Linked DNA regions of Homo sapiens. The protein of the gene in region 7 purifies or fractionates together with the protein of the main gene of each other region. This does not show direct contact. Each region holds a gene or a part of one and is shown on either strand. Other genes may lie near its edges.

Region 1 (4,234 bases), on a different chromosome or scaffold from region 7:
GAAGCTGTGGAAAGTATTTGGAAATACTAAGTATTTGGAAGTGTTGGACTTTTTTCCTAATACCGAGCCAAAATATATCCGCTTCTGACTTTCACCTACATACAGATTTTTGTTTTGCCATGCCGAAAACACGTGGCAATCCTTGAACTATTTGTTTTACAAACTGTGAATTTACGGTGGTGTTTTTTCTCTGAGCTTGGTAGAAACTGTAGTTTTATAAAACTAAACAACTATTTGGATTACTGTAAACTATATAAATTAAGTACATTTATTGAACTGTTTCGTCTTTCACACAAATATCTTTAAAAATTTGTCAGTCGGAACTACCTTTGGAGTTTTAATTTCCTTAAGAGGTGCTGGCAGCATTTTTATGAGCTATGACATATGCCATTTTCTTAGCACTTTCTAGAATTTCTCATTCACTTCTCACATAACCTAGTAAAGTTGGCATCATCTGCATTTAGTTGGACAAAAACACCAAGGCTTAGAGAAATTGAGTCTCCTAAAGACATGTAACTGTGTTGATGAACTGAAGTGCATGTATATATTTATATACATATATTAATTTGTTTAACAAATCTTTAATTTGTATCATTCTCTCAACAGATTTATTGAGAATGCAGAGACTATCTTTTTTACCACTTACATTATTGAAGAATGAGTGAAGAAATTAGCATCTATTAGGTGCCAGGCACATGGTACCCTGCTTGGGAAGTAGTGGCCAGCTGAATCAAACAGATTCTCAGTATTTGCCACATGGCACATTTAATCATACTTAGCTCCTGGACATGCAATCCAAAATTCTATATAGGGCTGATCCTTAAGGTATTTGTAGTCTCTTTGGGGACATAAACAATAAAGGTATGATTTCAATAGTGTATACAGTAAGCTCAGAGGGGGTAAGTTTGAAATGATCAGGAAATAATATATAAGGCAGCTTCTTAGAGGAAGAGGTGACAGCCCTTACAGGCTGAAGGAACAGCAGAAACAAAGACCCAGAGACCAGAGTGATCATTATATAATTGACACAGCATCTGTAAACAGTTTTTCAACCTACTCTAGACAGTTAACTTCAGAGAGTTTAAATTGTGGTCCTTTCAGAGTAGGTAGCATGATTTGGAATATAATTGGTAAGATGTTAATTAATAGTATTGGTTTTAAGTTGTCTCTGAAGAATAACATGTTGAATTTAAAATAACCTGTGAATAGAAAAGTAACTGAGGTTCAATCTTGGTGGCGATTTGCCTAGTATATAATTATAGGCAATACATATTATAGATGTTCAATAAACATATCTAAGGAAGCTAGTAATCTAGGAAGTTATAAAAGAACACTAGAGCCTACAGTAGGATTCCAAGTTGGCAGCCAGGGAACTGACCCACATTGTTTTAGCAGAAAAACTTATGGCAAAATTTTAAAATCAGGAGACTTTACAGAGAAATCTAGATTTTTGTTCTCTCTTTAAAATTGATAGTTAAATCCTATGTGGTGACAATTATCTAACACTGAGTAATGATTGTTCTTTTTAGGTAGGAAATTGCTTCCTACTTTGTCACTATGCCGCCTACTCTGTATTACATCTTAGCAAGGCTGAATGTCCCTTGGTATTTGCATCACCTCTAGTTGTCATTTTTTTTTCTTGTACTCTTATCTCTACGGAAGGCAGAAGACAAAAGACCAAGAAAAATGGGAGAAAGCAGATATTGTGTATATGTGTAAAGGAGGAAAATGCTTATCCATTTAATATGAAAATAAAGGATGTCAGAATCTAAAGAAAAAACCTGAAGATGCTAGTCCTCTTCTCTCACCTGCCTGTTTTTTGTAGGCATCTGAGTTTTTGACAGCAGTGCTATAACCAGGAGAGAGGGAACTTCTTTGATAGAGTTAATGGTATGGTATTTCTGCCAAAACACGGATACTCTTTTAGGCCTGGTTCTTATTAAGTGCTTATACACTGATAAGATTGATATTCTCCTTTGAATTCTCATTTAACTGTGGAAACAGAAACATGTAGAATAGCTCTAGTAAAAGTAGGATTTATTAAAAGGATAGAACATCACTTATAAAATGCTGCAGGGCCATGGGGAAACCATAATTATTCCATCTATTTCTTCTAGGGCTCATATTATTTGTCTTCTTTCTCTTATTTACTTTGTTTTCCTGTACAGACTTGCAATTATCAATCTGTTTACTCCTGGCTTTTCTTTCTCAGTGTCAGCTTGCCTTGCCTCAGTGGTGATTCAGGCCTTTATGCACGATGCGCTGTCAGTTTTGTTTAAGTGCTCACCATCATTTCTGTAATCTCCTTTCAAATTCCTTGAATAGAGAAACTGACCCAAAGTAGACCAGTTGTGCTACAGGGCATGCAAGGCTGATTCTTTCGAAGGCTACGATTTGGACATTTTCTTTAAGAAAGTAGTTGAGAATCAATGATTGACATTTCTGTTGCTATGACCATCTGACTAAAATAGGCCAGTAATGCAGTATTTTATTTTATTTTATTTATTTTAATTGTTTCTGCGCTAAGTAATGACCAAGCAAAGTGTATCATCTAAGCAAAGCACTTGTAGGCTACTCAGCTGAGATGTTTGCCCATCCAAAGAAAATAGGACAGGGGTAAATGAGATCTTACTACAGGCAGCAACAGGAGGGACTAAGAAGATTTAGATGATCAGGAAATACTTTGTATATGTTTACCTTGTTTTAAAGGATTTTATTCTGTCTATGAAAGCAGGGTATTAGAAGTAGCCATCACATACTGAGCTCTCACTATATTTGCATTACTTCTAACCATCATAAAAACCCTGCAAAGGTTTGCCAGGTTTCACGGGAGAAGAAATAGACTCAGAGAGGTTTTAGCATTTTACCCAAGGTTAGTGGATAAGTGGATGACCACTTTGGAACTGTGCACGTGATGACATCCAGAGGAAGAAGAGAGGACCTTTCTTCTTGGATGTCTTTTTTGCAGAACAAGAAACATCTTCTGTTACCACAGCAGAATTTTCTTATATTGTATTGACCAGAATTGGGTCGTATGCCCTTTCTTAAGTTAGGCACTGGCTTGACTTCACTGTGTGAAAAATGTATAGACTTTGGCTAATCAAGGGGATGGGTGTGGAATCACTAACTCTGAGTACATATGCACAAGAAAAGTATATTGCTGAACAAAGTTGAGCTACCAGCAAGAAAGAAATTTGGGGATAGGTTTGGGAATAATAAGTAGCATTTGTTGAGAGCTTACTATATACTATGCACCCTTGTAAGCACTTTACATGAATCAGCTCATTTAATACTCACAACTAATACTATACTCTGGTAGATAGTTCAGGTTTCAACCCAGATCTGACACCAATGCCTGTTTCCTTAACCATAGTCTACCTCAGTATCAAGTGATAGCTTGATTATAGATTTCAGCAGAACAGTGTCAGCATGCTGACGTTTTAAAGTTCACCGTGTGTACATCCTAAATGAACATTTTTGCTTTTTTTAAAAAAATGAAATCAGACATAGTAATAACCGCATTGTAGACTAGCATTTCTGTGACAGCCTATCATTTTAGAACAATTAAGGACACCAAAATTCTTGACTACGTGTAAGGGTGGCAGGACTATTTAAGAGAGTTAGAGTATATATTGACTTCTCCTATCTGTAAATTTCTAAGGTGATGTACTCTTAAATATACCTTCTTGTTGTTGTCTTGAGCTTAATTTGCCTTTTACGACAAAATGTGTAAATTCCCAAAGTATCGTTGTGTGTGTGTGTGTGTGTGTGTGTGTGTGTGTGTATGTATTCTTTTGCTAGGCTGTAAATGGAATGGTAATTTCTTTTGGCTCTTCTCCCAAGATGGCAAAGTAAAGTGAACTTCATGTAGAATTTTAATTTTATAGTTTAATACCAAGAAGGACAGTATTCCAAGCTGAAATCTCTTCTAAAATGTTTGGTTTATTTCATTCAAAGGAAATGCATTCTACACCATATGCTATCTAAAAATTCTGGCTAACCTCTTTTCTAATGTGCCATTGGATACTAAGTAGAAGTATAATAATATAGAATCAGCAGATTCTATGAACAAGATGGGGTATATGGGTGATTCATTTTTTTGGTAGGCAGTACATTTACTATAGCTAGTGATCTGCTTGATATCTTTCTGTTACTGTATAAATCAAGGACTTTATTATATGAAACATTCCTAGGGAAAAATTAGGATCAGCAAATGTATAATTCAGGAGAGATT
Region 2 (4,234 bases), on a different chromosome or scaffold from region 7:
TCAAACTACTGGCCTCAAGTGATCCTCCTGTATCAGCCTCCCAAAGTATTGAGATTACAGGTGTGAGCCACCATGCCTGGAAAAATTCATTTATATTTCCTATATACTTTACATACACAGCCTGAAGTTAATTTTATATAACATTTTAAATAATTTTGTACATGAAACAAAGTTTGTGTTAAGTACATATGTGTAGAATTTTCTTTTTTGAGACAGAGTGTTGCTCCATCGCCCAGGCTGGAGTGCGGTGGTGGAATCTCGGCTCACTGCAACCTCTACCTCCTGGATTCAAGTGATTCTCCTGCCTCAGCCTCCCAAGTAGCTGGGACTGCAGGCGCACACCACCGCACCTGGCTAACTTTTTTGTATTTTTAATGGAGATGAGGTTTTGCCATGTTGGCCAGGCTGGTCTCGAACTCCTGACCTCAAGTGATCTGCCTGCCTTGGGCTCCCAGAGTGCTGGGCTTACAGGCGTAAGCCACCATGCCGGCCCTAAGTTTTTTGTATTTTTTTCTTTTTCTTTTTTTTGAGATGAAGTCTCACTGTCTTGCCCGGGCCGGAGTGCAATGGCGTGATCTTGGCTCACTGCAACCTCTACCTCCCGGGTTCAAGTGATTCTCTGGCCTCAGCCTCCCGAGTAGCTGGGACTACAGGTGCCTGCCAGCATGCCCGGCTACTTTTTTTTGTATTTTTAGTAGAGATGGAGTTTCACCATGTTGGCCAGGCTGGTCTCGAACTCCTGACATCAGGTGATCCGCCCGCCTCAGCCTCCCAAAGTGCTGGGATTACACGCATGAGCCACTGCGCCTGGCCAATTTTTTCTATTTTTAATGGAGACGGGGGTTTCACCATGTTGGCCAGGCTCCTGACCTCAAGTGATCCACCCACCTCAGCCTCCCAAAGTGCTGGGATTACAGGCTCCAGCCACCGCGCCTGGCCGAGTTTTCTACTTATAGTATCATGCCAGTGCTTAAAAAATTTCAGACTCCTTTGGAGCATTTCAGATTTCAGATTTTTGGATTAGGGATGCTCAACCTATAGTAGTTTTAAAGGCCTTACTTGGCAAAGTGCAAAGCCAGCAGTTCCTGCTAGTGCTCCCAGTGACATCTCAGGGCTCTCCAGGGCAGAGGATGGAGTTCAGCTGCTGCTGCTGCCTCTCCTGCCACCTGGCTTCTTCCTCTCTTCCCAGTGGGTCCTTGACCTCTCCCTGGACCTCCAGTCACTTCTGCCTCAGCCTCCCCAAATGTTTTACGGTTTCCCAAGCACAGCCTTGTCTTTAGGTCCTTCTACCTGAACACCTCTCTGCTTCCCCCACTGGCACGCCAGGCTGAGGCTCAAATCAAAAGCCCTTTCTTGGGGCATATTTTCCATCCCTCCAGGCCACCGGCAGCTCCGCCTTCCCCGGGCCCCAGGCCCTGGACATGCTGCTCTGTCACAGCCTTCACCCCCCAGCAGCAGGCAGGAGCGTGCTTGAGTCAGGACACAGGGCTTAGCATCACCTTCCTGCCAGGTGTGCAAAGAATGGGGATGACAGGAGAGAGTGGGGGCCCTGGGACAGTACCTTGAGCAAGAGAAAGGGCGTGATGACGTTGTAGGCCATGTGGAAGTAGTCCCCAACACTGGGCTTGTTGAGTGGAAACCACTCGAGAGGGAATACCAGCTGCGGAGCAAATGGAAGAATGGGCTCACCTGGGCACAGCCCCACGCGGCCCTCGGGCCTCAAGGGAGTCTGCCCCTAATGCCGCCCACCCCAACTCCTTTCACCCCCCACCCCATCATGTACACTTAATTCTTCCTGTGATCGCTGGACCTTCTCGGCAGCCTTGGGACAAAGGTTTATCCAGACAGGAAAGCTGAGTCCCAGAGGAGGTAACGGACTTGTCCCCAGACACAGAGCAGATGCAATTCCAGTCAAGGCCTGACCCTGTGCCCCTCACCCAGCAGATACCAAATAAATGACCCTGATGCCAGCTTGGGAGTTGGTAGGCTTCTCAGGGACTCCGTTGTGGCACCAACTTGCTGGGTGACCCTGGGCTAATACTTCCCTTCTCTGGGCCTTGGTTTCCCCATCTATAACACAAGAGAGGTGGCCCAGAGGGCCTACTTGGACCGTTCGGGTTCTGGCGCTCCTGAGTGCCAGATCAGTCTCCTGAGTGCTAGGCCCTGATGTGGAGGGACTGCTTCCAAACCAGGTTCAAAGTACACGTTAGGAGACAAAGGAGAAAACAAGAATGCTCTACAAAGTAGCTGCAACTCTTCCTTCCCAGAGAGAGGAAGGCAGGCCAGGGGCAGTTCCTCCTTCTGCAATGCTCTCTCTTCTGAGCCCTGGCCTTGTCCAGGCCAGTGTGAAAACCCCTATGCGGGGTTAAAGCATTTCACAACCCCCAAACTGTACTTCTAGTATCTGTTGATTGAAAACACACATAAGGCCCACAAGTTTCAAGGAAGGATTTAGATGGTTCTCTCTTTTAACACAGAAATGCCATATTGGATAAACTAAACCCGCAGAAATAAAACTCACAGAATGCAGCAATCTCAGTCTCTCTCTCTCTCTCTTACTCAGTGTGCATGTGTTTATCTGCCTCTTTACCTACATCATATATATACTTGCTAAAATACTCTGTGATAGCAAAACATCAGAAATAGGCTGACTCTTCAATCAAACAGGACCAGTTGAATCCCTGATAGTACTTCTTACCATGGAAGGTTAAGTAGCCATTAACAGAAATGACACCTTATATGTACTGACATGGAGAGAGAGCTATATTTTTTTTTCTTTTTTCTTTTTTATTGAGATGAGGTCTCCTTATGTTGACCAGGCTGGTCACAAACTCCTGGGCTCAAGCGATCCTCCCACCTTGACCTCCCAAAGTGCTGGCATTACAGGTGCCAGGCACCAAGCACCATTAATTTTTAAATTATTTGTAAAAACAGGGTCTTGCTATGTTGCCAGGACTGGCCTCAGGCAATCCTCCTGCCTTGGCCTCCCAAAGTGCTGGAATTACATGCCACCATGCCCACCATATGATATATTCTAAAGGAAAACAAGCAGGTTGCAAAATAAAGTATAAAGCAAAATCCCATTATGGTTAGAAGGGAAAAGGATGTATATATGTGTTTGTACAAGCAGAGAAGAGTGAAAGGGGTGTTCCCGAAACTGTCAGCAGTGGGACAGGAAAGGGGTAGGGAGAGTCTAACACTTCTTTATGTTACAACTATGTTACATCTATGACATGTTACTTTTATAACTTGTAAATGTTTTTGTTTTTAACAAATTTGCAACTATTATGCATACATTTGAAAATCTCTAGCGTATACAAGAGCTTTTCAAATGTCTACGTTCCACCAAGTCCTACTTAGGGTTACAGTGGTCACAGCAGCTCTAAGCAGGATGGGGGAAGTGATTTGCCCAATAGGAGACCCTGTTATGCCAGTAGAAGCTGGGTCCTAGTGAGTGAAGGGAGCCACGAGCCCACTCCTGGCCTCATCTCTCTCTCTAGCACCAGTTTGATGGGCAGCTTCTTTGGCCCCCAGTATGTGGTTCCTTCATGCTAGAAGAAGGTTCAGAGCAGCCAGTCCAGCCAGTCTTCTTGGAGAGAGAAATGAAGCCCAGGACAGTGACTTGCCCTAGGTCACCCACAAACCCAACCAGATGCCCCAACTCTTGGCTCAATTCCTCTTATTTTTCCACATTTAAAAGGCAACCTTCAAAAAGACTGCAGGAAGGAGAACCAGCACCCACCATCACTCCCTGACAGCATTGCCAGGACAGCTTTTCTTTACACCTATCAAGTCTTTGATCCCAGGTAGACAAGCTCGTTATTGACTTGCAATTAGTCAGTCTGCATGTCATTTAGGAACCTTTTTTCTCCTTAAATATTCCAGGTTGCTCTATAGTATCCATAATTTCTGCTTAATTGCCAGGAAACATTCTCTATAATGGACATAGCAAAACTGATTTACCCAGTCCCTAATGCTGGACACGCAAGTCACTTCTAAGGTTTGGCTATCATAAACACCACTGCAATGAACATCTTTGAGTTAGAGGAAACTGCTGTCTTCTTGCTGATTATATCCCTACGGGCAGATTCTCGGAAGGGTATTACTGGGTCAGAGGGATGAATATATTAGGATTCTGGATATTTATGTGACAGAGAATTCAACCTTGTCAGAAAGGGGCTCCAGGGCCAGAATGCCTGGGCAGATGCTGGCCTCTATGCTTGACCTCGAGCCA
Region 3 (4,234 bases), on a different chromosome or scaffold from region 7:
ACAGAAAAACAAATGTCACATGTTCTCATTTATAAATGGGAGCTAAATGTTGAGTACATATGGACACAAAAAAGGGAATAACAGACACTGGGACCCCCTTGAGGATGGAGGGAGGTAGGAGGGTGAGGATAAAAAAACTATCTACCAGTCAGGTACTATGCTTATTAACCTGGGTGGCGAAATAATCTATACACCAAGCCCCCATGACGCGCAATTTACCTATATGACAAACCTGCACATATACCCCTGAAGCTAAAATAAAAGGAAAAAACCCACAAAAACAAACCAAAACAAAAAAAACCCACGTGGGTCCGTAGTGATCTCTCAAGTTGGCTACAACAGCACAAGGCACTCCAGTGCACTTTTGAAAAGCTACCAGCAGAGAGGTTACCAGGAGGAAGTTCTGGTTGCTTTCCTCCTCAGGGCCTGCTGACAGCCGGAGATGACACTGAGAAGTGAAGTGCCAGAAGGTTTTCATCGTACTTTGCTTTTTCCTGCCTTACTTGAACAGCTTTATTGAGGTCCAATTATAATAAACTGCAAATATTAAAATGCAGAATGTAAGTTCTGACGTACATACACCCTTGCGAAGCTCTCACACAACCCAGACAGTGAACATATTTATCCCCCACTGAGGTTTCCTTTGTACCCACCTGCCCTCCTGCCCTCCCACACTCCCCTTCCCTCTCTCTCTCTCTCTTTTTTTTTTTGTTTGAGATGGAGTCTTGCTCTGTCACCCAGGCTGGAGTGCAGTGGTGCAATCTTGGCTCACTGCAACCTCTGCCTCCCAGGTTCAAGTGATCCTCCTGCCTCAGCCTCCTGAGTAGCTGAGACTACAGGCGCACACCACCACACCTGGCTAATTTTTTGTATTTTTATAGAAATGGGGTTTCACCATGTTGGCCAGACTGGTCTCGAACTCCCAACCTCAGGTGATCTACCCACCTTGGCCTCCCAAAGTGCTGGGATTATAGGCGTAAGCCACCATGCCCAGCCACCTCCCCTTCTCTCTCTCTCTATTGCCAGGACATCAGTGATTCTGCTTTCCGTCAGTATAGATTAGTTTGCATTATTTAGAGTTTTATACAAGTGAAATCATACAGTATGAACTCCCTTTGGTCTGGCTACTTGGCATAATTGTTTGGAGACTTGTCCATGTTGCTGTGTGAATCGGTCATTCATTCCCTATTCCATTGGACGGATATTTCACAGTTAACTTATCCATTTACTACTTGATGGACATTTAGGCTGTTAGCAGTTTTTGCCTACCACAGAGTAAAGCTGTAATAAACACTCACATACTAGTCTTTATGGGGACATATACTTACAATTTTCTTGGGTGAATACTTAGGAGTGGGATGACTGGATCACATGGTGAGTGCATGTATAACGTCTTAAGAAACTGCCAGTTTTCCAAAGTGGTTTTACCACACATTATGCATTGGAAACCACTGTACTTTCAGAAAAGCAGGGTGGGGTCATGATGTTGTTATGGAAAGGAAGCCAACAGGTTGGCTTTATAGGATTTATGAAAGAGGCTATTTTTTTCGAGAACCTTGGGGTGTGATGCTGGACAGGTTTCCTTGAAATGTACTCGCTAAGGGTATAAAAGGAAATGCCCCAGCTCAGGCACAGACTTCGTCCTCGAAGGCAGTCAAGCTGTTGTTTCTTTGGTTATGTAGGGGTGGGCTTTAAAGAAATTCAAAACACATGAAAATGACAACTCGAGATTTATTTCAGTCAGTTCCGAGGCCCTGTGCATTAGGGAACTAGAACTCATTTTCTTCAGTACACAAACCTAGGACTTCCTTTTCCTGCTGAAGTCAGGGTAAAGAGGAGAAAGGTGGGTTCTGGGGGCACCGGGTCTTTTAGGGAGGGGCCCCAACCCCAGTGGGCACCACCCAGCCCTCATGTTCTTCTTGCCACCTGGTTACTCAAAGGCCCTTTTCCTGGGGAGTCCAGAGCCCAGGGCATTCTCAAAGCGACCACTGTCCTGTTAGCTTCGGTGAGTCCCTTAGCTGATAGAGCAGGGGGAAGGGGAACCAGTCAGCAAAACAGGACTTGACAGACAAGCTGAATCAAGGGAAAGGGAGCTAATGTAGAAAGGATGAGCTGGGAAAAATGTAACAGCCCACCTGCCATTCCTCATTTGTGGATGGGAGATGTACTAATTATTGTCTAAGTAGAAAGAAAACAAATGCTAGAATCAGGTGACCCTCAGAGTCAAAGAAGTGAATGATAACTTCAAAGGAGAGGTTCATTCATTTCTGTGTGGACTACTCAGATGATTCTGAAATCTAGAATACTATATAGACTCTAACTCCTGCTTGGAATATTTTTTTCAGAAGAATAAGCAGATTTAAAATTTAATCTCCATCTTTTTGGCATTTGGTTGTTACTATTCGTTTACAAGCCAGTCCACTTTTTGATTTTTGTCCCTTTTCCAGGAGCAGGCTTGCATCTGACTGACCCACCATGACACCCACAGACTTCACAGTGAGTACAGCCGTGCTCCTCTGGCTCCTCAAAACACACACTCATCTTCCCTTTTTAGGGGGTGTGGGAAGGATCCACTGTGGGGGAAGGATTTATCTGTGTGGTTTCCCAGGGTAAGATCTCTGCCTGGCAATGCGCATTGCTGGGTAGGTTGTTGTCCAGCACAGAGGGTTTTGCAAATGCAAAGAGGCAGCTATGCTTTGGGGTATGTTGTGGAGACAGAGGAAAATGTGGTGTTATAAACAGCTAAGGATTTTTAACCATCTTTAACTAGGGTGTGCTTAGTTCCATATGCCTGTTCTAAAACTCAGACAAATGAGGCAAAGGGAGAATTCATGTAATTTGCTTTTAAAAAACCCATGGTGGGCACATTAGTTGTATTTCTTGCATAACATTATGTAGACCTTATGAAAACACGTAACAGTATACATTCCCCTGAAAGAGACCAAGAGCTGAGCAAAAATTAGTGAGTCAGTCTGGGCGTGGTAGCTCACGCCTGTAATCCCAGCACTTTGGGAGGCAGAGGCGGGCGGATCACCTGGCCAAGGCCAGGATTTCAAGACCAGCCTGCCCAACATGGCAAAACCCCATCTCTACTAAAAATACAAAAATAGCTAGGTGTGGTGGCATGCGCATGTAATCCCAGCTACGTGGGAGGCTGAGGCACGAGAGTCGCTTGAGCCTGGGAGGTGGAGGTTGCAGTGAGCCAAGATCACGCCATTGCACTCCAGCCTGGGCAACAGAGCGAGACTCTGTCTTAAAAAAAAAAAAAAAAATCAGTGAGTCAAATCATAATCCAGAGAATCTTTTTTTCTTTTACAGCCGAATGTAATTAAGTGTAGAATCAAATTAATTTCCCATGCTTTTGTAACATTCATAAATGCCTTATAAAATTACCTAAGGGCTTTGATTTTGCTCTTCTCCAAGGGAAAGCCTGGGTTTTACATGTAGATAATTGAAATCCAGACTTCCTAGCAGGCGGGCTAACAAACTGCCTCACAGTACATTGTGGGTTTCCATGATCTATGGAGAGTGGTGGTTGAAACAGTTTATCAACTAAATTATTTATGATATGCTAATGATTCATTAGTATTACATATGTATAGTTACCTAATTGCACCTATATCCATAACAACAAAAAAGTAATTAATTTGGTCCTGGTGAAGTAACTATTATTCTGACAAAAAGTAGACTCTTCAGTTTCTCCTGCATTAAATTCACCTTTCAATCCCTGAGGCTGTGGAAACAGAAGTAGATGAAGGCAGCAGAGCCAGGGCTGCTTCTGAGCTTGCCAGTCATTTGCTTTTATCATTTGGGATCTTGGATAATAGCCAACTCTGCAAAGCAGCCCCAGATAAGAAGGAAACTGCACCTCAGTAATGACCTGCTCTTGTCAGAGGAGTCTGGCGCCATCTAAATGGGAAGAAGATGGGACCCCTGTGGCCCTGACTCCCATATTCCATGGAAAGTAGCCGTGGCACCCTGTGGCCACCTTTCTGAGGATGTGCTGGGCCAGTCACCCATGCAGGTGCCCCACATTCCCTCAGCGTCACAGTAAAGGCAGAGTCCTTTTTACAGATGAGGAGACCGAGACTGGGGAAGGTGGTTTGAGGGTTCAAGGTCTCATAGAAATTTGGAGGAATAGCCCTTGAGGGGTGCTGTTGGCAATCATAGCTTTGCTGGGTTCCTCCCTCAGGGTGAATGTCAAAGCACTGAAATCCAGGTCTCAATGTTGGGA
Region 4 (4,931 bases), on a different chromosome or scaffold from region 7:
AAGAGTATGTGCAATAATACCCACCTGAGGGGTTGTAAGAACCAAGGGAAATAACCCATGCAAGGTGCTTAATTCAGTGACTGGAAGAGTAAAAGATTTTAAATAGCAACTATCATTATATAGTTGTTATTGTATGTATAGTATAGTTTGATTTTTATAAATCTGAAAAGATACAAGCATCAAGTATAATTATGTTCATGTTACAATTAGGGAAGCTGAGGTTCAGAGAGATTTGACTTGTTCAAGATCTCAGAATGAAGTAGACACAGAGCCAGGCTTATCTCCAGGTTTCTGACTTCTCATCCAATTCTTTTACTAATCAAGAGGGCTACTGAGCCTACTGCAAGACTGGAAGTCTTTCCCAGCCTTGAAGTAATGTTGTGCATACTCCCCAGGACATTTATTTATCTTCAGATCCAGGAGGTCCTAATAAAATGCAAGAGGTAGCACAAAACACACAATCACCTGGCCAGGCAGAAATTTACATCTGTCCAGTGGGCTTTTTAGCGGGGAAGGGGAGGGGTGTGTGTGTGTGTATGTGTGTGCGTGTGTGTGTGTGTGTGTGTGTGTGTGTCTGTGCGGTGGTGGTGGTGTAGTGGTGATAGGGTGTTGGTTGAAAAATATCAAAGGAGGGTTCTGTGAAGTTCAGGGTTTCCTGAGTGAGGACCCGGTGGGAAAAAATGGCTGAAATTTCCAGTGAGATGGAATGAGTGCAGTACTCAAAAAACAAGGAACAACCAGCCAAGGGGGATTGGGCCCTAGAGGCAGAGGTGATTGATAGAATTCCATGTAATAATGTGTCCTGAAATGCTGGAATGTCTCCTTAGCCCGTGCACAGCTCCAAATCATCTGCATGCAGCCACCCCTTGGCAAGTATGTTTCTTTATATTCCCACTCCCCATCTCTGCACAAACTCCTCCCTCCCCTGACCAAGTCCTTTCCTATCCCTCCAATCAAAGAGTAAACTAAGCTTAGCTGTTACTTACAGTGCAGTATGAATTTTTGGGATGTATTTGTGCTTTTGAAAGTGCTTATTGTTTCAAAGCTTAGTAGACAAAGCGCAGTGCCAAACCTAGTTAGACTGCTGATGAAATTACAGTCACTCTGGGGCCTGTGAAGAGGAGCAATTTCTGGAGCAGTTGAGCTTTGCTAGGAGGCATAATATTACTCTCTTGTAGGTCAAGGGCCTGTACCAATTGGAAGTCAATGAAAAATTCAACCTAATACAGCATACCACTAATGGGCTGCTGCACTGGAGGCTAGGCTTAAATTTCCCTTAAAAGAAGTAAAAAATAAATTCCTTATGAAAAAGCATGGAGAACATTAATGAAAATGAATTCTCCCTTACCATCAGAGAGGTGGAGCCATTGTAGAAAGTGATTCAAAGAGCTTCCCCAATATGAGATATGAGGCATATTCACCCATAACAGCCTTATCCATTGGCTTGTCAATTATTCAAGCTTTGATGTGTAGAAAGCCCTTTAATACACTAAACTCTTGTACTCTTAAGCCCAAAAGCACCCCGGGCCCAACACCCTGTCCAGTTGCATAGGCTGCACAGGCAAGGGTTAACAGTACAACTAATGAAAATTGGGTAGGTCAGCAAAGTTGATCTCTTCTCCCTGGGCTCACCACAAAGGAAAACACCGCCATACTGGAGTGGGAAGACTCATCCCAAAGGTCGCCCCCACAACCTCTGAATCTTGTGGAGGAGACTCAAAATAAATACAGCCTAGGAGATCAAAGACCAGAAAGCCCCATTGGCTCCAAGGAAAGTCAAGTCAATACCCTAGCAGGGGGAAGAATTGCTTCACTCATCCTGGAACCTCCAACCCCAAGGAGGTGGGGGAAGGGGGGCACCCCACATGACCTGTACTGAAATAGGGAAGGAAGGGGAATGTGTGATGGGACTAGGAGTTTGAGTGAGAGATATAGGGAAGGAAGGGAAGTAAGCAGTCACAGACGCTGGCGGCCACCAGAAGTTTGAGCCTCTTTGGTAGCAGGAGGCTGGAAGAAAGGACAGAAGTAGCTCTGGCTGTGATGGGGATCTTACTGGGCCTGCTACTCCTGGGGCACCTAACAGTGGACACTTATGGTAAGGCAGAAAGGGGGGCCTGGCTGCCATTGCTGGCTTAGGCAAAAGGCTAGAGGGTTGGTGTTTAATGTCTACTATGGAAAGCCTATTCCTACTGGGCAGGTGAGTCTTCTCAGCCAAACTCTGCAGGCTCTCTCAGCCTTGAGCAAAACGGATGGATGTAGTTGAAGGCTGCTGAAGAAGCCAGAAGGCAAGTTTGGGCAGAAATTGAAAAAGGATTTTTCTCTTGGAAAACATCTGCATTATTTTCTAGGGCTTGTATCTCAGGGGCATCAAGAAGGTTCCCAATGACATCCGAATCTTTCCTCCATCTGCTGTCTCTCATCTAAAATTCTACAATTGGACTTAACCACTCTGCTTCCAAGCTTTGGTCTCTGTTAAAATATACAGCCCCCGAAGAAGGAGTGTTTTCTAAGAGTTGGATAGGACTATAGAAGTAACCTATACCACCCTTCATTGTCATGAATAAGTGCTCAGAAACATCCAGTAGTGATTGAGATTTCACTGTTCACTACCTCCCCAGACCATCTAGTCCATCCAGGAGCAGCTCCAACTGTTAGAAAGTTCTTATTTGTGTTGAACTAAATCCAGTTCCCTCTGACTTCCATCCAAAAACCCCAGCTTTGCTTCTTGGGGCTACACAGAACATAGATGCTTCCTTGCCCTGTGATAGCCCTTCAAAGCCCTGAGGACAAGTACTATGTCTCCTTGACTCTTCTCTCCTCCAAGCTGAACAGCCCCAGCTTTTTCAACTGGTCTTCATAGGACTTGGTTTCTTACCCATTCCTGGGATAACTCACTTCCCTATAGACATGGCTCAATTTGTCTGGGCTATTTATGGGCTGGATACAAATCCCAAAGGAGGATGGACTATTCCATAGTGGCATTATTTCCTTGGAGCTTGGGAAGCTCTATCCTCATCTACACTCCTGAGAAGTGAGATGGATTTTCAGGAAACTCAACCTGGGTAACAGCTAAGTGAGATCCAATATAGGGTAAAGGGGGATTTTGCTGCTTCCCTATCATCCCTAGAGAAAAAGGCTGGATAGGTGTTAGCTTGGTGTCACTTGTTAGGTCAGAAAGAATCCAGCTTTCCGTAGCTGACTCTGATTAGGTTACCCTATCCTGGGGCTCTGTGACCCATCACACTCTGGAACCTCAGAGTTAGAAAAGACTCTGAATTAAGTCAACCAAGAGAAAAAATAATTTGCCCCCAAGCCAAAGAGCATTAGTGGCAGAGTTAATGCTCCTGAAAAAACATTTTTCTTTCTATAACTACCACATTTCCATTCTCTAGCAGGTTTTATAATGTATCTCTCTACCTTCTCCAAGTCTGTTGGTTTGAGCTAGGGCTTAAGCCTGGGGCTTGAGGGAGCATTTTAGAAATGTTAAATTTAAATCCTTTGTTTGTGTGTGTGTATGTGTGTGTGCATTCATGTGTGTGTGTGTGTGTGTGTGTGTGAGAGAGAGAGAGAGCACTCATGTGTCTTGTTCCTTCCCCAGCCTATGAGCTTTTCCAGACCTGGAAGCAGGCCTTCCATTTGTACACAGGATCTTATACTATAGACCTCAGGCTCAGGTTATGCTGAGCTGCAAATAATACCTTCCCTCTCCCTGGACCTCATTGTTCCTAGCCCATCTGTACAGTGAGGAGGTTGACTTGACTGGTCTTAAAGGGGTTTCTCAGCTGGACAACTCTGTGGGACTGCAGCTTCACTGCTAAAAACCCTGTAGCGGCCAGAGTAAGCTGCTAGCCTCTTCCTGTGGGGCTAAGAGATATGTCAAGATAATCAAAATTTAAAAAATTTCTAATATTCACATTTTATATACATTTTAAACATTTCAGAAACATTTTATAAACATCTATTATATAAGTTAATCCTCCATCCAGGAGGCATTCCAGGAAAGGGAGAGAAGCCAGTCATGTGGGGGAATGGGATAGAGATATGGAAAATGTCAACCTCTTTGTGATGATGGGAGGAAGGGGATTCAGAAAGAGACCTAGAATGGGTCTTATAAAGGAGCACACACCTAGTAAATTCAACCTTTCTTTTCTTCAGTGCCATTACACAGGCATCAGACATTTGCTTTTATAAGGCTGGGTCTCAGGACCACATTAAGCTCAATACTGTATATATACTTATCAGCAATAAGTATATATACTTATCAGCAATAAGTATATATACGTATCAGTAATAAGTTTATATACTTAGTAATAAGTATATATACTTATCAGTAATAAGTATAATATAATATAATGTTATATATTATATATAAGTAATTATCAGTAATAATTATATAATTATTATATATTATATATAAGTAATTATCAGTAAAGTGGAAGTAATAATAAAGGAAGTAATATAATATAATAAGTATATAAATATATAATATAATATAATATATTATGAATATATTATATTATATTATTATTATATAATATATATTATATATTGTATTATATAATTATTATATATATTATATTATTATATAATTATATTATATATTATATTATTATATGATATATATTATATATTAATATTATTACATAATATATATTATATATTATATTATATTATTATATAATATATATTATATATTATATTATATTATTATATAATATATATTATATATTATATTATTATATAATATATATTATATATTATATTATATTATTATATAATATATATTATATATTATATTATATTATTATATAATATATATTATATATTATATTATATTATTATATATTATATATTATATATTATATTATATTATTATATAATATATATTATATATTATATTATATTATTATATAATATTTTATATTATATTA
Region 5 (4,234 bases), on a different chromosome or scaffold from region 7:
ACCGGGATGTCCCAGGATGCTCAGATCAATTTGGTGGTGGTTGTTGGTGACCAAAACAGACCTGCTTCCAGATACTGTCAAGATGAGAGGGCAGCAGAGGAAGCAGTAACATCTCCAAAGGGTCATCTTACCATGAGGTAAGCCATGCTCTGGGCTCCCTCTATCCCAGTGGTTCTTCTACAGAGGCTGGAGCTTCCTCAAGTTTGGGGTGCAGGCTGAGGGGCCAGTGACCACCAGCAGCACAGCCTGCACACCACGTGCACCAGCCTCCTGGCAAGGTTTTGCTATGAGGATAGCACCGCAAGGATGGATATTCACCAAGGCATGCTAAATCTGAGTACCATCACTTCTCAGCATGCTAATGGCTACAATATTTTGGGCAACTGCACTGATACTAAGGAATAAATTATAAACACTCACACATGTGTGTGCAGCTGGAAGTCCGCAGCCTTGTAACCCAGGGCGAAATTATTCTGTGACAGTTTGGATTTGGCTGTGTCAAAACTCATCTGATAGCCAGCAAGCCACCCTTCGAAGGCCAACACAGCCCAGCCATAGATGGTTGGTCCAGAAAAATCTATATCAACATTACTGCCAACACTAAAACAATCCCGTTTATAGGAGGCCTTCAATTTCCCACTCTTCTTTCTGCAATAAACAAACAAACAAAAGCAAATGATGAAAACAACATGAGTTCTTACTACTGTCTAGGAATTTTTAGAGTAAGATCCTCTCTCTCATCTCCCAATGTAAATATTATTTTGGTACATGCCACATATATAGTAAAAACATTTCAAATGACCTAGTTCTACAAATATAATTTTGTTAGGATTAGACATGTATAGACTACTATCATCTATTACTCATTATAAGTTCAAATGATAGGATACTTCATGATTTATTTCATAAAAGCATGAACAAAAGTATAAGAATGAATAAGAGGCTGGGTGTGGTGGCTCACACCTGTAATCCCAGCACTTTGGGAGGCCAAGGTGGGCGGATGACGAGGCCAGGAGATTGAGACCATCCTGGCCAACATGGTGAAACCCCGTTTCTACTAAAAATACAAAAATTAGCTGGGCGTGGTGGCACACGCCTGTAGTCCCAGCTACTTGGGAGGCTGAGGCAGGAGAATCACTTGAACCTGGGAGGCAGAGGTTGCAGTGAGCCAAGATCATGCCACTGTACTCCAGCCTGGCGACAGAGCGAGACTCGTCTCAAAAGAAAAAAAAAGAATGAATAAGATATTTCAGTGCCAAATTAATAATCTGAAGGTGTATGTATACAGACGTACAAGAAGCCAAATCTCTTTAAATGTTTCCAAATGCCAAATGCCACAAAGAATTAATCCCCAATATACATTATTAACCTATCATGGAGAGAAGCATGCTTTTTTGAAGGACAATACTGAAAAAATGAAATTAGTTCTTAATAACCCTATTCCAATCAAGCCTCTTGTAGGAATATTTGTCCTGGCCGGGCACAGTGGCTCATGCCTGTAAGCCCAGCATTTTGGGAGGCCGAGCCAGGCGGAACACGAGGTCAAGACAGAGACCATCCTGCCCAACGTGGTAAAACTCCGTCTCTACTAAAAATACAAAAATTAGCTGGGCGTGGTGGTGCATGCCTGTAGTCCCAGCTATTTGGGAGGCTGAGGCAGGAGAATTGCTTGAACCCAGGAGGCAGAGTTTGCAGTGAGCTGAGATAGTGCCACTATACTCCAGCAAGACTCCATCTCAAAAAAAAAAAAAAAAAAAAAAAAGAAAAGAATATTTGTCCTAAAGATAACTGAAGTGTGTGGCAAAAAGAACACACCTGTTGTTACGGCTGAGACAAATGTCACTTTGCATTCATCTAGCAACCTCCGTCCTTCAGATAGCATGGACCCACATTAGGCAGATAGGAAATGACACAATCCCCCTTTTTTTCACGAGGAAATTGAGGTCAAGAAGTTGGGGGATTTACAGAGGCTAAGAAATCAAGTAGGCAGCAGAACTAATCATTATAGCATCTGAGAGCCAGATCACCTTCTTAAGAAATTAACTTTTCAGCACCATAAGAGAGGGTGAGGGGGAAAAAAAAGGAATTAACTTTTTTTTTTTTTTTTGAGACAGAGTCTCGCTCTGTTGCCCAGGCTGGAGTGCATCTCGGCTCACTGCAAGCTCCGCCTCCTGGGTTCATGCCATTCTCCTGCCTCAGCCTCCTGAGTAGCTGGGACTACAGGCGCCCACCACCATGCCTGGCTAATTTTTTGTATTTTTTAGTAGAGATGGGGTTTCACCGTGTTAGCCAGGATGGTTTCCATCTCCGGACCTCATGATCCGCCCATCTCGGCCTCCCAAAGTGCTAGGATTACAGGCGTGAGCCACCACGCCCAGCCAAAAGGAATTAACTTTCTCAGCAGAATACCATGTCCATCAATCTTCAGAATTGCTTAAGATTCATCTATGGTCTCAAGACTCTTCTAGCTCCTAAATTTTTTCTACCATGTGTCTCTCTCAAATACATTTATACATTTTTGCTCATCTATTCAGTTTTCAAATTGTTCATCCTGCCTTGGTGGGGAGGGATCTTCCTTTATCTGTATTACCTATACAAGGTCTCCAATATTCCTTATAGCAACCTTCTGAGTTCTTCCTGCCTCTGAACTTTGCACTATATCTCCTTATTCTAAAGCTCTCTACCCTTTCAGGCTCCAAAAACGTTTCAGGAAATGGGATTTGAATAATTACCCTGTGTTCGGTACAAATATGGTATCAAGAGTCAGTTTCAACCCTTCAGCCAACTGAAAAACAAAGATTTAAAATAAATAATTAGTAATTTTCAATCATTTATCCAACTCAAGAAACCAATTCTAAAGTTTCCTGAGTTCTTTAACAAAAAAAAGGAGTCATTCAAGAAAGCAAAATATTAAATTATGTAATAAGTAAGCTCTCCATCCTCCTGTCCCCTCACCCCAGCCTTCATCATGGTTCTCCCACTAAAAAATGGGGCAAATCCTATTTTAGCAAGTTACATAAAATACAGTTCAAAACCAAACAGAATTCCCATACAACAAAATCATCTTGATACTCTCTTGAAAGAGCAGTAATGAGATAACCTGACATTTAACAAGCAGGCTAAGTCATTTTACTCAGTTTTGCATGTACATTATCTATACATGGTATCTCTATCAAAAACAGTGCCCTGTACATAGTGGGCACTTGACTATATCTAATAGATTTTCTCCTTGAAAACATGAGAACATTTTAGAAAAATTTTTCTGTCAAGCCAATTTTTCAACAATTACAAAACTAAACCAAATTTCCGCAAATAGTTTGTTCTACCCAGGAGAAGCTTAGCTGTGTAACAGAGAACCAGTCAGAACAAAGATGTAATATAGTAATTAGAGTACTCACAAACAAAGCCTTATTTTCTAGAAACATAAGACATCAAAAAAGGCCACATGCAGAGAAAAAATATGGCTACTAGATAGGTTGTAAGATCTCTTTTGATTATATTTGGGGTATGTTCATCATTCAATCTACAAGATAAATTGAACCTATGAATAACTTCTAATGCGTTCTCTTACCTTATTCTCCCAAGAGATTTCTGTCCCTAGAGTATTGTCTGTGTTCCATTTCTGGGTGAAGGTAAGTCCATAGTTACAGACCTTATATTTGGTTTCTAGGTTGCCTGATGCTTTCCCTGTATCAGTGTAAGCATGACCAGAAGTAGAAAATTCCTGGTAAGCAAGAAAAAATAATTACTTTAAAATTAGCTCATCAAATAGAAAATATTCACTTTGGAAAGCAGTGTTCAATGTATCAAAAACAATACCATTTACTGCTTGCCACAGCCCTACTCTAGAGCAACTTCTTTCCTCCTTTCCCCTTGCTTTTCCAGTCCCTAAATATTTTAACCAGTTCTGCCAGGCGCAGTGGCTCATGCCTGTAATCCCAGCATGTTACGAGGCCAAGGCGGGTGGATCCCTTGAGTCCAGGAGCTCAAGACCAGCCTGCGCAACATGGCAAAACCCCATCTCTACAAAAAATACAAAAAATTAGCCAGGCATGATGGCACGTGACTGTAGTCCCAGCCTGAGCCCAGGAGGCAGAGGTTGCAGTGAGCCGAGATCATGCCACTTCACCCTAGCCTGGGCAACGGAGTGAGACAGCTCAATACCAGTTTCAGATCTTTCCATTACTCTACTTCTCTTATTAATATCTCTTGTTCCATATACTCTCTTACCAAA
Region 6 (4,234 bases), on a different chromosome or scaffold from region 7:
TTGAGGCTGCAGTGAGCTGTGATCGAGCCACTGCACTCCAGCCTGGGCAACAGAGTGAGACCCTGTCTCAAAAAAAAAAAAAGAAAAAAGATAGAAAGAGAAGGAAAAAATGCCAGTGATAATTTTGAAGTTGGTCTTGAAGATAAAGTTGAAATGCTAATTCCCTATCCATGAAAACCTGCTGCATCTCTTTAAAAATAAAGAGATTTACCTTTTAAATATAAGTCTCACTTTTACGGTTTTAGTTTAAATCTGGGAACATCCCATGGGCTGGCTACCTCCTCCAGAGAGGCCTGTAATACTTACCTTTTAAATACTTACCATGTAAATGGCCTCATTGATGACAATATCCTTGACCTTGCCCATTTCTATGAAGGTAGTGCTTTCTTTGCCTGAAGCATAAGATGAAGTCATCTGAATGCCAAGGGAATCAATGATTAACAGAGTCTCCTGATCAATCTTCACAAAATGGAGATAACCAAGCAGACCTAAGAGGGTGATGAAGATGGCAGCAGAGAGGATCATGCTGTTCTGAAGAGAGAGCCAGACACAGACAGTAAGATTACCAAGTGGTACCAGTCAACTCCAGGCAATGAGGGGAACATGCATGGAGGAAAAGGAAATTGCTTTTATTTGGGTTCTAAGGTGCTATGAAAGTATACAGTGAAACAGATCCAGACAACAAATGGATAGGTCTAGGGGAAACCTCCATCAGCAAAATGTCCATCACAGCAATCTCAGAAATTTTTCTTCCAAAATTCCAACTTTAGGGCCTAAATCAGCTGAACGCAGTAGCTTGCACCTGTAATTCCAGCTACTAGGGAGGCTGAGGCAGGAGGATCGTTTGAGCCCAGGAGTTCGAGGCTGCAGTGAGCTATGATCATAGAACTGCACTCTAGCTTGGGTACCAGCATAAGACACTGTCTCTAAAAATCGAAAGGACCCAGCCGAGTGAGGTGGCTCACGCCTGTACTCCTAGCACTTTGGGAGGCCAAGGCAGGTGGATCACAAGGTCAAGAGATCGAGACCATCCTGGCCAACATGGTGAAACCCCATCACTACTAAAAATACAAAAAGTAGCTGGGCGTGTTGGCACGTGCCTCTAGTCCCAGCTACTCTGGAGGCTGAGGCAGGAGAATCGCTTGAACCTGGGAGGCGGAGGCGGAGGTTGCAGTGAGCCGAGATCGCACCACTGCACTCCAGCCTGATGACAGAGTGAGACATCTCAAAAAAAAAAAGGACCCCAAATCTTTTCCTTTCACACTCCCTCAGCAGAATACAGGAGGGAGTTATGTCCTGATAAACCCATTATAAGATGAAAATGCATTTAATATTTAGTTCTAGCACTCAAATAAAAAATTAAAATTAAAAAATGCATTTAATATACCTATCAAGCATCAGAGCTTAGCCTAGCCTACCTTAAACGTGCTCAGAACACTTACATTAGGCCGGGCGCGGTGGCTCACGCCTGTAATCCCAGCACTTTGGGAGGCCGAGGCGGGCGGATCACGAGGTCAGGAGATCGAGACCACGGTGAAACCCCGTCTCTACTAAAAATACTAAAAGTTAGCCGGGCGTAGTGGCAGGCACCTGTAGTCCCAGCTACTCGGGAGGCTGAGGCAGGAGAATGGCGTGAACCCAGGAGGTGGAGCTTGCAGTGAGCCGAGATCGCGCCACTGCACTCCAGCCTGGGTGACAGAGCGAGACTCCGTCTAAAAAAAATAAAAATAAAAAAAATAAAAAAGAACACTTACATTAGCCTACAGTTGGGCAAATCATGTAACATAAAATCTGATTTTACAGTAACGTGTGGTAAATCTCATATAATTTATTCAATGCTATACTTAAAGTGAAAAACAATGTTTGTATGGGTACTTGAAGTACCGTTCCTACTTGAAGTACCGTTCCTACTGACTTTGTATTGTTTCCGCATCATCCTAAAGTCAAAAAAATCCTAAGTCAAACCATCGTAAGTTGGGAACCATCTGTATATAGTGCAAAATCATAGACTGAACAATTATAAAGTGCTTAGCACAGTGTAGCAGATACTATGGCTTGCCTAATAAACAGCCACCCACCAGCCCCAATTGAACAGTGAGTGAACCATGATTGGTTCCCACTCCTTCTGCCAATGACTGCTTTAAAAATTGGCATGTGACACAACTCTGGCCAATGAAATGTGAGGGGAGATCTGCTGGAGGGGCTTCTGGAAAACTTGAGTTTATCTTTAAAAATCTGCAGAAGAGACGTTCCCTTCATCATGAGGTTTAGATACCTGGAACTACTATGGCCTCTGCCAGACCCAGTGGAGAGCTAGTAGAGGACAACTAGAGGACGCTAAGGGTGGAAGTGCAGTTTCTGCACTTGGAGGACCAGGTGGAGGACAAGTAGGGCACACTAAGGGTGTCAGCAGTAAGATGACAAGAGCCGGAATCAAATGAGTCTCCACGTGAACTCTGGAGCCCTCCTACCTTATGACTTCTTGTTAATATAAAAGGTCCTTATCTCTTAAGGCTATTTTAGTTGTTCTGTGTTACTTACAGTTGACTAAGTGATGTGTTAAGGGCTCAAAAAATGGTGTCTATTATTTATTCCCTTGATTCTAAGACCAATGTATAATCTTTAACATTTCTGAAGTTAAAATGTGTTTTCCTATTGGTGTGTGTTTCTTTCATGTGGCATTGTTTTATCTTTTTTCCCAGAAGCTTGCATTCATTCATTGATTCGAGACAGAATTTCACTCGTTTCCCTGGCTGGAGTGCAATGGTGTGATCTCGGTTCACTGCAACCTCCACCTCCCGGGTTCAAGTGATTCTCCTGCCTCAGCCTCCCTAGTAGCTGGGATTACAGGCACCCGCCACCACGCCCAGCTAATTTTTTTTTTTTTTTTTTTTTTTTTAGTAGAGATGGGGTTTCACTATGTTGGCCTGGCTGGTCTCGAACTCCTGACCTCAGGCAATCCACCCGCCTCAGCCTCCCAAAGTGCTGGGATTCCAGGTGTGAGCCACCGCACCCGGCAAAGCTATGATTTAGAAGACTGGCACAGGAAAAAAATTATTGATGACCTAGAATCAAAGAAATTTTGTAATTTTGGACTGCATTCCTTGAGGGCAGGAAGTGTCTTATTATTCTTTGCACTGACAAGATGCCCTCCTTTATCTACTTCTAGTCAGGTTCCTCTAAGCTGTCTAGGCCCTGACCTTGACATCTTTGTTGGGCCTGCACTACCCACCCAATTGTAGCAAGAATCTTGCTGAATCAGTTTAGAAAGAACTCCCACCCTTGGTATTTGATCAGCCTGGCATGCCTTCAGCAAGAATCCTGTCAAGTCAATTTAGCCAGAATCCCACCTTGCCCCTGATGTTTCCTTTGGGTAATTTTCCATCCACTGACTCCCACCTTGCTCCTTGGCTATAAATCTCCACTTGTCCATGCTATATTCGGAACTGAGGAAATTTGGAAGTCTATACTGAAGTCTCTTTTCCCCTACTGTAATAGTTCCTGAATAACATCTGGTTTTTGTACCACTTCAACTACTCACTAGCTCTGGTTTTCTTTGATGGTCTCTTTCTACTTTTTCATAGTTAACCCATAGTGTTAGATCAGGGATCTGTAAACTATTTGGGCCTGTGGTCTGGTTTTGTCTGGCCCATCTCAAGCAAAGAATGATTTTTAAGTTTTTACAGGGTTGTAGAAAGAAAGAAAAGAATATTATGAGACAGACCCCACAGAACCTGCTATATTTACTATCTAGTCTTTTAATGAAAATGTTTGGGCCAGGCATGGTGGCTCATGCCTATAATCCCAACACTTTGGGAGGCCAACATGGGGGGATCGCTTGAGGCCAGGAGTTCAAGACCAGCCTGGGCAACCTAGTGAGACCCTGTCTCTACAAAAAATACAAAAATTAGCCAGGTGTGGTGGCACATGCCTGTAGTCCCAGCTACTCAGGTGGCTGAGATAAGAGGATCGCTTGAGTCCAGGAGACTGAGGCTGTAGTGAGGGGTATTCACACCACTACACTCCAGCCTGGGCAACAGAGTGAGAACCTGTCTCAAAAAAAACAAAGAAACCTGTCTCAAAAAAAAAAAAAGTTTGCTTATCTCTGTGCTAGATAATTATTTGTTGATTGATGAATGGAGGATTCAGTACTGGGTCTCTGATGATCCAGAAAGATCTAATTTTGAGTTAATTAATTGCATTGAATAAGCATTAAGAAGAATGGAGAGGAATA
Region 7 (4,234 bases):
ATGAGCCACCGCGCCCAGCCTGTTGTCACTCTTAATTTGAACTGAGCAGGTGGCACATTCCTTGCATGGTAAGAGTATGTAGCAGGCATTTGTGTACATCCAATTTCAAAGGACCTAAATTACCTTCTTGATCCCTATAAATTTTTTTTTTTTTTTGTCTCGAGGTCAAGGAAACTGCTTGGCTCCTAGGTTAGGAAGAGACAGTCTTGCAGGTACTTGATGAACTAGAGGAGTGATTCTCAGGCCTGTCTGTGAATTAGACTCACCTGGGGAGCTTAAACTGATGCAGGCCAGGCACTGTAGCTCATGCCTGTAATCCCAGCAGCTTGGGAGACCAAGGTGGGGGAATCACTGGAGGCTTGGAAGTTCAATACCAGCCTGGTCAATATAGCAAGACCCTGGCTCTGCAGAAAATTTAAAAAAATTAGCCAGGTATGGTGGTGCGTACCTGTAGTCCCGTCTACTCAGGAGATTGAGTTAAAAGAATCACTTCAGCCCCGGAGTTGGAGGCTGCAGTGAGTCCTGATAGCATCCCTGCATTCCGGCCTGTGTGACAGAATGAGACCCTGTCTGAAAAAACAAAAAAACTTCCTGACACCTAGGTTGCACCAGACCAGTGAAATTGCGATTGCTGTGGTGGCACCCAGGTGTCATTGTTTTTGTTTTTTATTTATTTTTATGTTTTGAGACAGGGTCTCGCTCTGTCACCCAGGCTAGAGTGCAGTGGCATGATCTTGGCTCACTGCAGCCTCCACCTCCTGGGCTCAAACGATCCTGCCACCTCAGCCCACCACGTAGCTGGGCCCAGAGGCATGCATCACCACGCCTGCTAATGTCTTAGTGTTTTTAAAACTCACGAGGTGATAGTGTGCAATCATGTTTGAGGGCTAGGGACATTTTCCCCCACCAGGGCACGTTTGGCAATATCTGGGGGCATTTTCGGTTGTCCCAACTGGGGGCGAGGGCATGTAGTGGGTCGAGGCCAGGTATTGCTGCTAAAACTCCTACAGTGCGCAGGACAGCCCCCCAAAGAATTATCTGGCTCCAGATGTCAAGAATGCCAAGGATTAGAGACCCTGGCCCACACCCTCAGTCCTTCAGTGGGATCTGGGACCAGTAGCACTGACACAGCCTGGAAGCGTAGAAATGCAGAATCCCAGGCCACACCCCAGACTTGCAGAATCCAAAACAACTCCCCCCACCCCCCACCACTCCCCCCAGAAAAACCCGGCCGCATGTGTGCACATTAAAGCATGCGAAGCCCTGGTTTCGAGGACACCTAGGGTCCCTTGCCAACTGATGAGTTCAAGGTTGGGAGGCACTGAGCACCGCGGATAAGAATGTGGGCTTTGAGATGACACAGGCGTCCTGGGCAGACAGATAGGTCGGGAGGGGAGGAGGAGAGATCTGCGGCATTTCTGCCCCTGAGAGTCTCCTTCCTCTCCGTGGGTCTGGAGGGAGAGTCAGGCCTCTTCAGCTGCCACACTCACCCACCTTCCCTCTCCTTTGTCCCACAGGCCCTGGTGATCACCAATTCAGCCAGAAAATCCTCCACGGTCGGGGAGATTGTCAACCTCATGTCTGTGGACGCTCAGAGGTTCATGGACTTGGCCACGTACATTAACATGATCTGGTCAGCCCCCCTGCAAGTCATCCTTGCTCTCTACCTCCTGTGGCTGGTGTGTGTTTAACGCCGTTTCCCTTTGCATGCAGGGAGGGACTTCTACGTGTGGGCAGTGGGCCGAGGGAGTGGGTGTTGATGGTAATGGCATGTAGAGCTCCCTGGCAGTTCCGGCTGTGGTTCATATTTTATTTTCCAGCCTGTTAACCAATTCCTCAGTATTTTGTTCCTTTCCTGAATTGTCAGGTTGATGTTCTCCTTGGTGGCATGGCGTTTTCATTTTCTCTTTTCCTTGACAGTGTCAGTAATTAACTACCCTACAATGGACGACACATCATATTTCTCCCCTTGAATCCTCCCAAACGCTAACCAGACTCACTTATTCATTAGTCCCTAATTATGGTGGTCAAAATTCTCTCAATTGCAAGGGATATAAATCTGTCTTAAAGTAGCCTAAGTGGCCGGTTGCAGAGGCTCACGCCTGTAATCCCAGCACTTTGGGAGGCCGAGGCGGGCAGATCACCTGAGATCAGGAGTTCGAGACCAGCCTCAACGTGGAGAAACCCCGTCTCTACTAAAAATACAAAATGAGCTGGGCGTGGTGGTGTATGCCTGTAATGCCAGCTACCTGGGAGGCTGAGACAGGAGAATTGCTTGAACCTGGAAGGCGGAGGTTGCGGTGAGCCGAGATTGGGCCATTGCACTCCAGCCTGGGCAACAAGAGTGAAACTCCAATTCCAAAAAAAAAAAAAAGTAGCCTAAGTAAATAGAGGGAACTTTGGGGCTGCATGTATCTCAGAAATCTGGGGACTAGCTTCAGGTGTGGATTGATCCAGGAGATCAAGCAATGTTGTCAGTACTCAGTTTCACCCACTGCCCTGTTGTCCTCTGAGTTAACATCATTCTCAGTGGTACTTCCCTACATGGCTCCGTAGCTTTGGGCTGATAACATCCTGATAGATAAAGGTGCCAGAGAAAAGACAAGGCAGCATTTCTCTGCACAGCCAGAGTCAGTCTCAGAGAGCACTCTGATTAGCCTGGCTTGGTCCTATTCACACCCGTGAACCAATCACTGTGGCCCAGGAGGCAGAGTTCTCTCATTGGCCAGCCTGGGTCACATGTCCTCTCCCATGGCAGAAGAGATGTGATTGACAGCCCTTCCATGTGGAGAGGGAGAGTTCCCAAAATAAAATGATAAGCAAAGAGGCTCATAGCACAACACATGCCTTGTGCTTTGCTACCTCTGGATCTTTGCCACGTACCTTTCCTTCCTTCTTCCTAATTGATGAAAGCCTGCTCATCCCCCAAGGCTGTAACAAACACTACTTCCATTGATTTACCCTCCCTTCTCAATTAGATGGACTTCTTCTTTTGAATTTTGAGTCCCAATAACTTTAGTATAGGAACTCATCTAATAATACTTTCTGAAATAGTTTTTTTTGTTTTGTTTTTGTTTTGACATGGAGTCGCGCTCTGTTGCCCAGGCTGGAGTGTGGTGTGCCATCTTGGCTCGCTGCAACCTCTGCCTCCCAGCTTCAAGCAATTCTCCTACCTCAGTCTCCCGAGTAGCTGGGACTACAGGCTTACACCACCACGCCCATTAAATTTTCTTTTTTTTTTGTATTTTTAGTAGAGACAGTGTTTGATCATGTTGGCTAGGCTGATCTTGAACTCCTGGCCTCAGGTGATCTACCCTCTGTGGTCTCCCAAAGTGTTGGAATTACAGGCGTGAGCCACCGTGCCCAGCCCACTCCCTGAAATAGTTTTGTTTTGTTTTTTTTGCATGCTCAGTGTACTGCCTCCTCTTTGAAGGGTAACATGTTAGCTACTTGCAGACATATAGCAGCTGACTTTTGTGTCTTCTGTGGGTACAACCCCAGCAGGGCCTGATGCATAATGGGCACAGCTCAAATTATTATCTGTTATTGAAAGAGAAGGGCTGGACGAAATGGCTCATGCTTGTGATCTGAACACTTTGGGAGGCCAAGGCGGGTGGATCATCTGAGGCCAGGAGAGCAGCCTGGCCAACATGGCAAAACCCCGTCTCTACTAAAAATATAAACATTAGTCAGGCATGGTGGTGTATGCCTATAATCTCAACTACTTGGGTGGCTGAGGCAGGAGAATGGCCTGAATCCGGGAGGCGGAGGTTGTATTGAGCTGAGTTTGTACCACTGCATACCAGCTTGGGCAACAGAGCGAGACTCTGTCTCAAAAAAAAGAAAAAGGAAGAAGAAAAAATTACTGGTTTATTTGGCTGTAGTTTGGTTTTTTTTTGTACATTTGTAGAGCAGAAGGTGAGTAAAGTGTTTCTAATAATAAAACTCAGAAAAAACACCAGAATTTAATTGTCTAATAGGCTGGGTACAGATATAGGTGGCATGCGCCTGTAATCCCTGCACTTTGGGAGGCTGAGGTGGAAGGATTGCTTGAAGCCAGGAGTTTGAGACCAGCCTGGGCAACATAGTGAGACCCTGTCTCTACAAAAAAAAAAAAAAAAAAAAAAAATTAGCTGGGCATGGTGGTGCCTACCTGTGGTCCCAGCTACCGTGGAGGCTGAGGCAGGAGGATTGCTTGAGCCTAGGAGTGCAGAGGCTGCAGTAAGCTAGGATC

What was found.
Region 1: the proteins of ABCC1 (region 7) and PDHX fractionate together in Homo sapiens (co-fractionation; one large-scale study listed by BioGRID). This does not show direct contact.
Region 2: the proteins of ABCC1 (region 7) and CLN6 purify together in Homo sapiens (co-immunoprecipitation; one large-scale study listed by IntAct). This does not show direct contact.
Region 3: the proteins of ABCC1 (region 7) and CCR9 purify together in Homo sapiens (co-immunoprecipitation; one large-scale study listed by IntAct). This does not show direct contact.
Region 4: the proteins of ABCC1 (region 7) and VSIG4 purify together in Homo sapiens (co-immunoprecipitation; one large-scale study listed by IntAct). This does not show direct contact.
Region 5: the proteins of ABCC1 (region 7) and VDAC3 fractionate together in Homo sapiens (co-fractionation; 3 studies listed by BioGRID). This does not show direct contact.
Region 6: the proteins of ABCC1 (region 7) and PIGH purify together in Homo sapiens (co-immunoprecipitation; one large-scale study listed by IntAct). This does not show direct contact.

What each region holds. Positions count from the first base shown.
Region 1 is NC_000011.10:34,919,116-34,923,349, forward strand, and holds part of PDHX (pyruvate dehydrogenase protein X component, mitochondrial isoform 1 precursor), read left to right. Parts: intron 1-4,234.
Region 2 is NC_000015.10:68,212,729-68,216,962, forward strand, and holds part of CLN6 (ceroid-lipofuscinosis neuronal protein 6), read right to left. Parts: intron 1,661-4,234; coding exon 1,562-1,660; intron 1-1,561.
Region 3 is NC_000003.12:45,892,459-45,896,692, forward strand, and holds part of CCR9 (C-C chemokine receptor type 9), read left to right. Parts: intron 1-1,758; exon of another isoform or gene 1,759-1,843; intron 1,844-2,447; 5' UTR 2,448-2,475; coding exon 2,476-2,496; intron 2,497-4,234.
Region 4 is NC_000023.11:66,037,108-66,042,038, reverse strand, and holds the start of VSIG4 (V-set and immunoglobulin domain-containing protein 4 isoform 1 precursor), read left to right. Parts: upstream 1-1,958; 5' UTR 1,959-2,040; coding exon 2,041-2,095; intron 2,096-4,931. UniProt on the Homo sapiens protein: Phagocytic receptor, strong negative regulator of T-cell proliferation and IL2 production. Potent inhibitor of the alternative complement pathway convertases.
Region 5 is NC_000008.11:42,398,202-42,402,435, reverse strand, and holds part of VDAC3 (non-selective voltage-gated ion channel VDAC3), read right to left. Parts: intron 3,725-4,234; coding exon 3,572-3,724; intron 2,786-3,571; coding exon 2,733-2,785; intron 649-2,732; coding exon 421-648; intron 1-420. UniProt on the Homo sapiens protein: Non-selective voltage-gated ion channel that mediates the transport of anions and cations through the mitochondrion outer membrane and plasma membrane.
Region 6 is NC_000014.9:67,593,422-67,597,655, forward strand, and holds part of PIGH (phosphatidylinositol N-acetylglucosaminyltransferase subunit H), read right to left. Parts: intron 532-4,234; coding exon 322-531; intron 1-321. UniProt on the Homo sapiens protein: Part of the glycosylphosphatidylinositol-N-acetylglucosaminyltransferase (GPI-GnT) complex that catalyzes the transfer of N-acetylglucosamine from UDP-N-acetylglucosamine to phosphatidylinositol and participates in the first step of GPI biosynthesis.
Region 7 is NC_000016.10:16,046,625-16,050,858, forward strand, and holds part of ABCC1 (multidrug resistance-associated protein 1), read left to right. Parts: intron 1-1,517; coding exon 1,518-1,679; intron 1,680-4,234.